Linked DNA regions of Homo sapiens: all the other regions are linked to region 2. A link means that fine-mapping ties the variant in region 2 to the plasma level of a protein whose gene starts in the linked region. Region 2 holds a variant in brackets. A gene starts in each other region. All regions are shown on their reverse strands.

Region 1 (2,750 bases), not on the chromosome of region 2:
AGCATCCCAAAGTGCTGGGATTACAGGCGTGAGCCACCATGCCCAGACCCAAATTTTTCTTGTTTTCTTTCTTTTTTTGGGGGTGGGGGGCAGGGTCTCACTCTGTTGCCCAGGCTGGAGTGCAGAGGCTTGATCTTGGCTCACTGAAACCTCTACCTCCTAGGCTCAAGCAATCCTCCCACCTCAGCCTCTCGAGTAGCTGGGACCACAGGCGTGCACCATCACACCTGGCTAATTTTTTGTATTTTTGGTAAAGACGGGGTTTTGCCATGTTGCCCAAGCTGTTCTTGAACTCCTGGGCTCAAGCGATCCTCTTGCCTCACCCTCCCAACGTGCTGGAATTGCAGGCATGAGCCACCATGCCTGGAACAAAGTTTTATTTTTCAAGTGGATCATTTAAAAAAATGCTTTATGGCCAGGCACGCCACTTCTCTCCAGCCTGGGCAAGTGAGCCGAGATTGTGCCACTGCGGTCTGGTCTGAGCGACAGAGGGAGACTCCATCTCAGATAAATAAATAAATAAAATTAAAACAAATTTAAACATTCTTTATATGACAAAATTATTCTCAATGGCAATTATAAAATGAATAATAAGGGCCAAGAAATAAACTCAGTGAATATTTTCTTTCCTTGAACTTTGTAAATATAATCATGTCAGCATAAAAACAGCCATGCATTGCTTAACAACAGGGATATGTTCTGAGAAATGAGTCACTAGGCAATTTTGTCATTGTGCAAACATCATAGAGTGTATTTTCACAAACCTAGATGGTGTAGCCTATTACCCATCTAGGCTACATGGTATAGCCTGGTGCTCCTAGGCCCCAATGCTTACAGCATGTTACCATACTGAATACTGTAGGCAGTTGTAAGACAATGGTATTTGTGCATCTACTGTAGAGACAGGGTCTCTCCGTCTGTCGCCCAGGCTGGAGTGCAGTGGCATAATCATAGCTCCCTGCAGCCTCCAACTCCTGGGCTCAAGTGATCCTCCCACCTCAGTCTCCCAAGTAGCTAGGACTACACGCTTGTGTCATCAGGCCTGTCTACTGTTTTTGTTTGTTTTTTGGTAGAGATGGAGGGTCTCACTATATTGCTCAGACTGGTTTTGAACTCCTGGCCTCAAGCAATCCTCCTGCTGCCTTGGCCTCCAAAGTGCTGGTATTACAGGAATGAGCCACTGCACCTGGTCCACTACAGCAATTTAAAAGTTAGATCTGGGCTGGGCGCAGTGGCTCATGCCTGTAATTCCAGCACTTTGGGAGACCGAGGTGGGCAGGTTGCTTGAGGTCAGGAGTTGAGACCAGCCTGGCAACACAGGGAGACCTATCTCTACAAAAAATGAACTAGATTAGCTGGGTGTGGTGGCACATGCCTGTAGTCCTAGCTGCTTAGGTGGCTGAGATGGGAGGATCACTTGAGCCCGGGAGATCGTCAAGGCTGCAGTGAGCTGAGATTGTGTTACTGCACTCCAACCTGGGAGACAAAGTAAGACCCTGTCTCAAAAAAAATATAAAACTTAGATCCATAAAATATTTTTCAGGGAGGATAATTTTATCACTGATTTTTTTTTTCAGAATTTCTGGAACATGGTGATAATAAGAGGACTGATTTTTATTTTTTAAATTCTCTACAGACAATGCACCCCCTTATTGCCTGCAACTCAAGGGGCAGGACTTCTGCCATCCCTATTGTTGGCATGCCACTGCACTGATTTTAAACTTTTAAAAAATGTTGTATGGGCTAGACAAAACACATCTCTGACTTCTGGTCTCAGGTTTATATTTGCAACTTAAAATCCCTCTTCCTACATCAATAGCCTTGCACGTGATGGAGTTAGCTCTAGGTATGGCAGGTACTACACCCGCTGAAGTGAACATGTGCAAGATAGGGCTCAGTTTCCCAGGACAGTCCTACAGCAAAGAGTTTTAAAATGCAATTAATTATTGAGAGTGACAGTTCTTACAGACAGTTTGGATGAAGTGGGTTGAAAGGGGAGGTTTGGGGGTGTCCCCCAAATTATAATGCCCCCAATGAAACAATAACAAGCATCATCTAAACACATATCCTCTCAGATCAGCCTTAGGGTGTGATGGGATCAGAGGTACCAGGAGGCTCCCCCGACCCTTCCACTTTATACCATACTCATTGAGGAATACATCTTTCTTCTGGGACCAGAGTCAGGGAGGAAGGTGGGCATCCTGGAGCAGAAGGGGTGTTCCTGTCCTTGTTAGTCCTGCTTCACACCACTTCTGCCCCCACCCCCCGCCCTCAGAGTCCTCAGGGACTCAACTGCCCGTGGCACATTACCCACAGGCCTGCTTCTCTTCTCAAGGGGGGCAAAGGGCCTGGGCAGCGAGGGTGGGGGAAGCTCAGGAGCTGCAGGAGTGGCGCAGGTGCAGGCACAGGGCGGGGTCTTTGTTCTTTTTTTCATCCCTCCCCTCCCCCTTCCTCCCCGGAAACCAGAGACTTTGCCACCACCAGTATTGGGGATGCTGAGCTGCGGGGTACGGGCCTGAGGAGGGATGGGAGTAAGAAGTGCTGTGGAAACCGTCAGGCCATGAACCAGGCTGACCCTCGGCTCAGAGCAGTGTGCTTGTGGACTCTCACATCTGCAGCCATGAGCAGAGGCGACAACTGCACGGATCTACTCGCACTGGGTGAGCTGGGCAGGGCAGGGGCTGGTGGGGGAGGGGTCATGTGGCCCCAGGTCCCACCTGCTGGGCCCTGGGGGTGGGGCGGGGCTGTTA
Region 2 (2,756 bases):
TTACAGGTGTGGGCCACGGCGCCTGGCCAAGGGTTCTGTTTTTAGATCAGTTTGAGAAACACTGCACAGTCCAGCCATGTTCCCTCATGCCTGGTGTGGAGAGGCACATGCAGCAAGCCCTGCGGTGGAGAAGCCTGTGGCCTTTTCAGGATCCTGACTGCAGGCGAGCTCCTCCTTTCCTCCGCCGCCTATGGACATTGAAGCCCACTGACACAAGCTTGCATGTCATAAACACGTGCCACACATATGTACTGCACAATGCATGACCAGACCAAATAGGTGATTGTCTAAACGAAACATCATCACATGCATGTTATCTGTTTTTGCTTTTTTTTTTTGAGATAGGGTCTCACTCCATTGCCTAGGCTGGAGTGCAGTGACGCGATCACAGCTCCCTGTAGCCTTGACCTCCTGGGCTTAAGTGATCCTCCCACCTCAGCTTCTCTAGTAGCTAGGACTGTGTGTCCTAGTCTTTCATCATGCCCAGTTAATTTTTTTGTATTTTTTGTAGAGACGGGGTCTTGCCATGTTGCCCAGGCCGGTCTCAAACTCCTGGGATCAAGTGATTCTCCCATCTTGGCCTTCCAAAGTGTTGGCCTTTACAGGCGTGAGTCACTGTGCCTGGTTGCGTGTTATCTCTAAGGGTGAACATTCCCACTGCTGATATGGGGCTACAGAGTGGCTGGGAACAGTGGTTCTCCTGTTGAGGGAGCTAGGGGTAGGTGAGAGCTTTTTTTGTTTTGTTTTCTTTTTTGAGATGAAGTCACACTCTGTCACCCAGGCTGGAGTGTAGTGGCGCAATCTCTGCTCACTGCAACATCTGTCTCCTGGGTTCGAGTGATTCTCCTGCCTCAGCTTCCCGGGTAGCTGGGATTACAGGTGTGCACCACCACACCTGGCTGATTTTTGTGTTTTTAGTAGAGACAGGGTTTCACCATGTTGGCCAGGCTGGTCTCGAACTCCTGACCTCAGGTGATCCACCTTGGCCTCCCAAAGTTCTGGGATTACAGGCGTGAGCCACCATGCCCGGCCTCAAAAAATAAAGTTTCAAAGCAAACCAAACACAGCTGACTTTGAGGAAGCAGAGGGAAAAGCAGTTAGGGCAAGTGGTGACTGAGGGTGGCGTGAGGGAGAGAAGCCAGTGGGAGCTCAGGTGGGCTTTACACAAGAATTTCTGCAGCTGGATGAGGGGTGGAGAAGTAGGGGGTCTAGACAGGACCTAAGTGCTGAGACAGAAGATGGCAGAACCTGGGAGTGGTAGTCCCAGCTGCTCCGGCGGGAGGATCGCTTGAGCCCAGGAGGTCGAGGGCTTGCTTTTGAACTTGCACCTGGCAGGCACGATGAGCTTGACTTTGGCTGGGCGCTTCACTCATGTGAACCTCAGTTTCCTCATCCCTCAAGGGGGATGAGGATGGTCTGGACTTCACGGGTCACGTGAGGGTTGTCCAGGTAAGGGGAGTAAACCCTCGGCATGTAGAAGCTCTGCATGTCCCGTGTTGCTGGTTTTCCTGTGTGCAAAGCCCATTCCCAGCACCCCTGGCCACAGTCCCTTGCTCCACTGAATGGCCGGAGCTTGGTCCAGACTGGCGGCTTCCTTTGGAGGTGGGGGATTGGAAAGCCTTAGACCTGGGGCCCTGAGGTCGTGTGCTGTGAGGTGTGTACCTGCCTTCCCTTGGGCCACTAGTGAAGGGGGAAGCCTCTCAGCTGGGGACCCCAGGTGCCAGGTGACAACCAAAAGAGAGCAGCAGGATGCAGACTTGTTACATGCCCACTTGTCCCCACCAAGGGTGGCACTCACCAGATCAGAGTGAGGTTGACCTCCGTGTTGGGAGGGTAGTTCTCCAGCTGGACCAGAAATGTGAACAGCAGGGGACCCAGGAAGTTGACCAGGGCGATGACCCCAGGGGGCAGGTACTGGAGCAGCAGAAACAGGGACTCCTG[C/A]GGGAAAAGGCAGGTCAGGGGAGCCCGCGTGCTGGGGGGCCCCTGTCTGCTCCCCGCCCCCCACAGTGCCCTAAAGTGTAACTCTGGGGCAGGCCCAGAATAGGGTCGCCTGTAAGCTATTCCCTGCAGCAGCCTGGCAGTTGGCGGGAATATCCAGTGGGAGCCCGCCTGCCTTGGCCGTGACCTGTGGCCACGACCGATTGAACCTCTCTGAGCCTCGGTTTCCTCATCTGTAAAATGGGATCATCCTGTCTCACCCCCGCAGTTCTGGCCAGGATTAAATGAATGCAGTTGCCTGACACCTCCTTGTTGTCCTGTGAGTACTTGGTAGCCCAGAAGATGGCGCTGATGGCCCCAACCACCAGGAGCCCGTTGAGTACGTTGACCCGCAGGTAGGAGAGCAGGCGGCAGGCCGTCTGGGCCCGGGTCTGCTGCTGCATCAGCTGGAAGCGACGGCCCTCCTCCAGCTCCACCTGCCCGGAAGGGTGGGGACAGAGGCAGCTGCAGGCGGGGTGGGCATGGGAGGAAAGGGTGCAGGAAACGCTCTCACACACAGTCACAACCATTCACGCTCACATACACAGTCACAAACTCTCACACTGTCATGCTCCCATAGACACTCAGATTCACACATTCACAGGCGTGCTCGCCATCACCCATTCAGTCACATGTGCCCTCACACTCGGCCACACATGCACACACATTCACACGCTCTCCATCACGCTCCCACAGGCTCCCTCCCACACACGCTCACACACACTGGCACGGTCGCACTTGCTCGCACACACCTGGAACACGTGGCTCTCACGCACTCG
Region 3 (2,757 bases), not on the chromosome of region 2:
ACATGCCTGGAGATCAAGGCAGAGAGGAGAGCACTCCCTGCCCAGAGTCTCGCGACATGTACCCAGTCCTCCAAACCAGCTCGATGCCCCCTCCTGACTGGGTCTTCCTGGGTCTCCTCCATCACAAAATGAAAGCACTTGGCTCTCTGGCTGCAAGGTGGACCCAGACTCCCCTGGCCCGAATTCTGTTTCCATACCAGTCTTCCCAAATCCCAAAATGTGAGAGCTCGATGGGGTCAGGATCTCTTGCATCTCCAGGCCCCTGCCCCGCTCTGGCCAGCTTGGACCCTGCACTCAACAGGGGCCAGCAAGTATCTGGGGAGCACAGTCTAGTGCCCCAAACCTTCTGGCCATCTGATTCCCTGGCCCAGGTGGCCAGGTGCCTTGACACTTGGGGGCAGCTTGAGACGTGGGGGTGGCCTTCATGCTCGCTTATGCCCTAGACTACCCCAGCTGGTTGTGCTGAGGCCATCAGCGCCTGGTTGTCCAGAACTCTCCCTGGCTTCCCTGAGTCCTGTTTCGGGAGGTGCTCTCCTGTGATTGGCCTACGCCTGCTGGACCCCAAGCCTCAGCTTTGGCGTTGAAAGTACCACCATCAGTGGTCCTGCCTCTCTGGAAGGTGAACGGTTCCTTCTTAAGAGTTGGCAAGAAATAGGAAATGGGGGAGTTCCTGAGCTTAAGGATGGGAGAGGCACCTCCCTCCTCACACCCTAGGGACCCATTGGTAAGGCACAAAGCATGCTTCCCACATTCTGTCACTCCAGGAGGCTTCCAGGCACAGCCCCAGCCCCTCGAGGGGCTCCTGTGTCCTCTCCTAGCCCCAGATGCTGGACCTCCCTGGTACCTGAGTGTAGTCTTGGCTAAAAGATCCTAGAAAAGTGACCACAAGGAAACAACCAGAAAGGGGACTGAGAGGGCCGGACCCGGCTCCTCCAGCACCAGTGGCAGGAGATGAGGGAAGGGGGCCTACCTGAGAGGGCTGCCGTCAGCAATCCAGTGATCCCGAAGAAGAGCCACATGTCTGGAGCTGTCTCTGGCTGCTACGCGTGGCTGCCTGTGGGAAGCACCATCTTGGGGCCGGGAGGTGGACACGGCCGTTGTGCGCCCCTGGCGCAGGTCTGCTCTACCCTTTGCTGTTCTTGTTCCTGTGTCTCTCTCTGCTCTCTCCTCTCCGACACGCATGCGATCAAACCCAACCTGTGAGTGTCTCACGCCTGCTTGTTCTGCTTGTGGTTTTGGTCTGCAGGAAGCTGGGCTGCTGTTACAGGGGCTGGTGGGGAGAGCCCCAGCTGCCTGTGCTGGGAGCCCACCCATCCAGGCTGCACCCCAAGAGTCACGGAGCCAGACACACGCATGCACACGCATCCATGCAGACACACTTCCCCGAGGGTCTTCTAAGAAGAAGGGAAGTGGAAGAGCCATGCCTCATTTCTGGTGGCCCAGAAGAAAAAATTGATAATGTAGTAGCTGCTCAATCAGTACATATTGGAAGAGGGAGTGAATGACCCATTGCCTGTCCCGGTCCGTGTAATTTGGCTCTCTTGGATTAAATCCTGAGTTTTATCTTAACCTTAGGTGCAATGGTGGTTGGGAAGGAGGGTGTGGTCTTGATGCACTTTTGGAGATAAGAGCCTAAGTCTCCCCTCAGAGAAATATAAATTGGGAAGGGCCTGAGAGATGGCCATCCCACAAGTCCTTCTACAGGGAAGGGTGCCAAGGCCTTGTGGGAGCCGCCCCGTCAGATGGCACAGTGGGGCCAGCTATCCCATCTCCAGGTACCAGACTGGGCATGCCTCCGTGGGAGTCAGGCATGGGAGCTGGGTCTACAAGGCTGAGCAGGATTTTGACAAACAGCAATCATGGGAGGCCTCTGGGCCAGAAGGAATAGCAGGAGCAAAGGGCTGAAGGAAGGAAGCCCAGGGCTGCCTGAGAAACCCCGAGTTGCCCCATTGCACTGCAGCAGACTGACGCTATAGGAAGAAGGCAGGGGCCAAGCGTGTTTAATTCCCATGGTACTCCCTGTGGAGCATATGGTAGGAGGTGAATAAATGTTTATTGAATGAGAAAAGGAATAGATAATTTGGTTGTCCAAGCAGGGCCCTGGAAGTGGTCAAATCCAGAAGGGGTTTGGTTCCAAATCCTGGCCCTGCCTCAATTGGTCCCATCCCAGGTCCACCTCTCCTGGCCCTCCACTTCCTGCATCCTTGCTTGTCTTCATTTCCCCAACATGTGGAATGAGGAGCGGTCCTCCTCCATTGGGTTCGGTCCTAAATGTGGGTGTATGCATTTGATGCGGCAAGTATTAGAGCCACGGGGAACCAGGCGCCCCCAGAGTGAGACTCCTCCCAGTCCTGCCCCAGCGCCGGCACCTGCTGCCGCTGCCCTCTGGTGGAAGTCACTGGCAGCACAGGTTTGCATGGGTGCCTCGAGCTCCCAGATGCAATTCCATTCATTTACACAGTCTTGGTGTGCAGAACTCTGGACAGGACTCTGTGGAAGTGAAAGAGAGGAAACCATATTCCTGCCCTCAAGGAGGATGAAGTTCACACACACACAAGTGACCAAACCACAGGCCAAGGTAGGACACACATAATGTGAGGTCTCCTGGTCCTAAGAGGAACCCGTTTGAAATGGGCCGGGAAGGATGGCTAGACTCCATTTCTGACAATATGGTAGACAGCAGATGCTGAAGAATTCTCCTAATACAAAACACCACAAAAATATTGTAAACCATCTTTTAAAATGTGTAGCTGAGGT

Alleles and levels. Alleles are on the strand shown, and positions count from the first base shown. The strength of an association depends on the size of the effect and on how common the allele is.
For the plasma level of the protein whose gene starts at base 2,483 in region 1, C is the low allele of the variant in region 2 and A is the other (weak association).
In carriers of allele C in region 2, the plasma level of the protein whose gene starts at base 1,205 in region 3 tends to be lower than with A alone (weak association).

The links. PIP is the posterior inclusion probability: the model's chance that the variant is causal. Protein levels are from antibody-based Olink assays in UK Biobank. Linkage for the fine-mapping came from a reference panel and not from the study's own genotypes, which makes the PIPs less certain.
Region 1: it holds the start of SIT1, and the variant in region 2 is fine-mapped to the plasma level of the SIT1 protein (UK Biobank, PIP 0.98).
Region 3: CD6 starts here. The variant in region 2 is fine-mapped to the plasma level of the CD6 protein (UK Biobank, PIP above 0.99).

What each region holds. Positions count from the first base shown.
Region 1 is chr9:35,650,664-35,653,413 of GRCh38, reverse strand. It overlaps SIT1 (signaling threshold regulating transmembrane adaptor 1), which reads left to right and starts at 2,483. Exons shown (of 5, transcript NM_014450.3): 1 at 2,483-2,660. The coding sequence starts at 2,561. RefSeq lists a silencer at 2,703-2,750.
Region 2 is chr17:78,134,052-78,136,807 of GRCh38, reverse strand. It overlaps TMC8 (transmembrane channel like 8), which reads right to left. Exons shown (of 16, transcript NM_152468.5): 8 at 2,244-2,414; 9 at 1,799-1,938. Among named protein-coding and RNA genes, the nearest start is that of TMC8, 4.7 kb to the right of the region's middle. RefSeq lists enhancers at 2,191-2,300, 2,015-2,540, 2,541-2,756. The variant C/A (reference allele first, on the strand shown) is at 1,942.
Region 3 is chr11:60,970,128-60,972,884 of GRCh38, reverse strand. It overlaps CD6 (CD6 molecule), which reads right to left and starts at 1,205. Exons shown (of 13, transcript NM_006725.5): 1 at 971-1,205. The coding sequence starts at 1,019.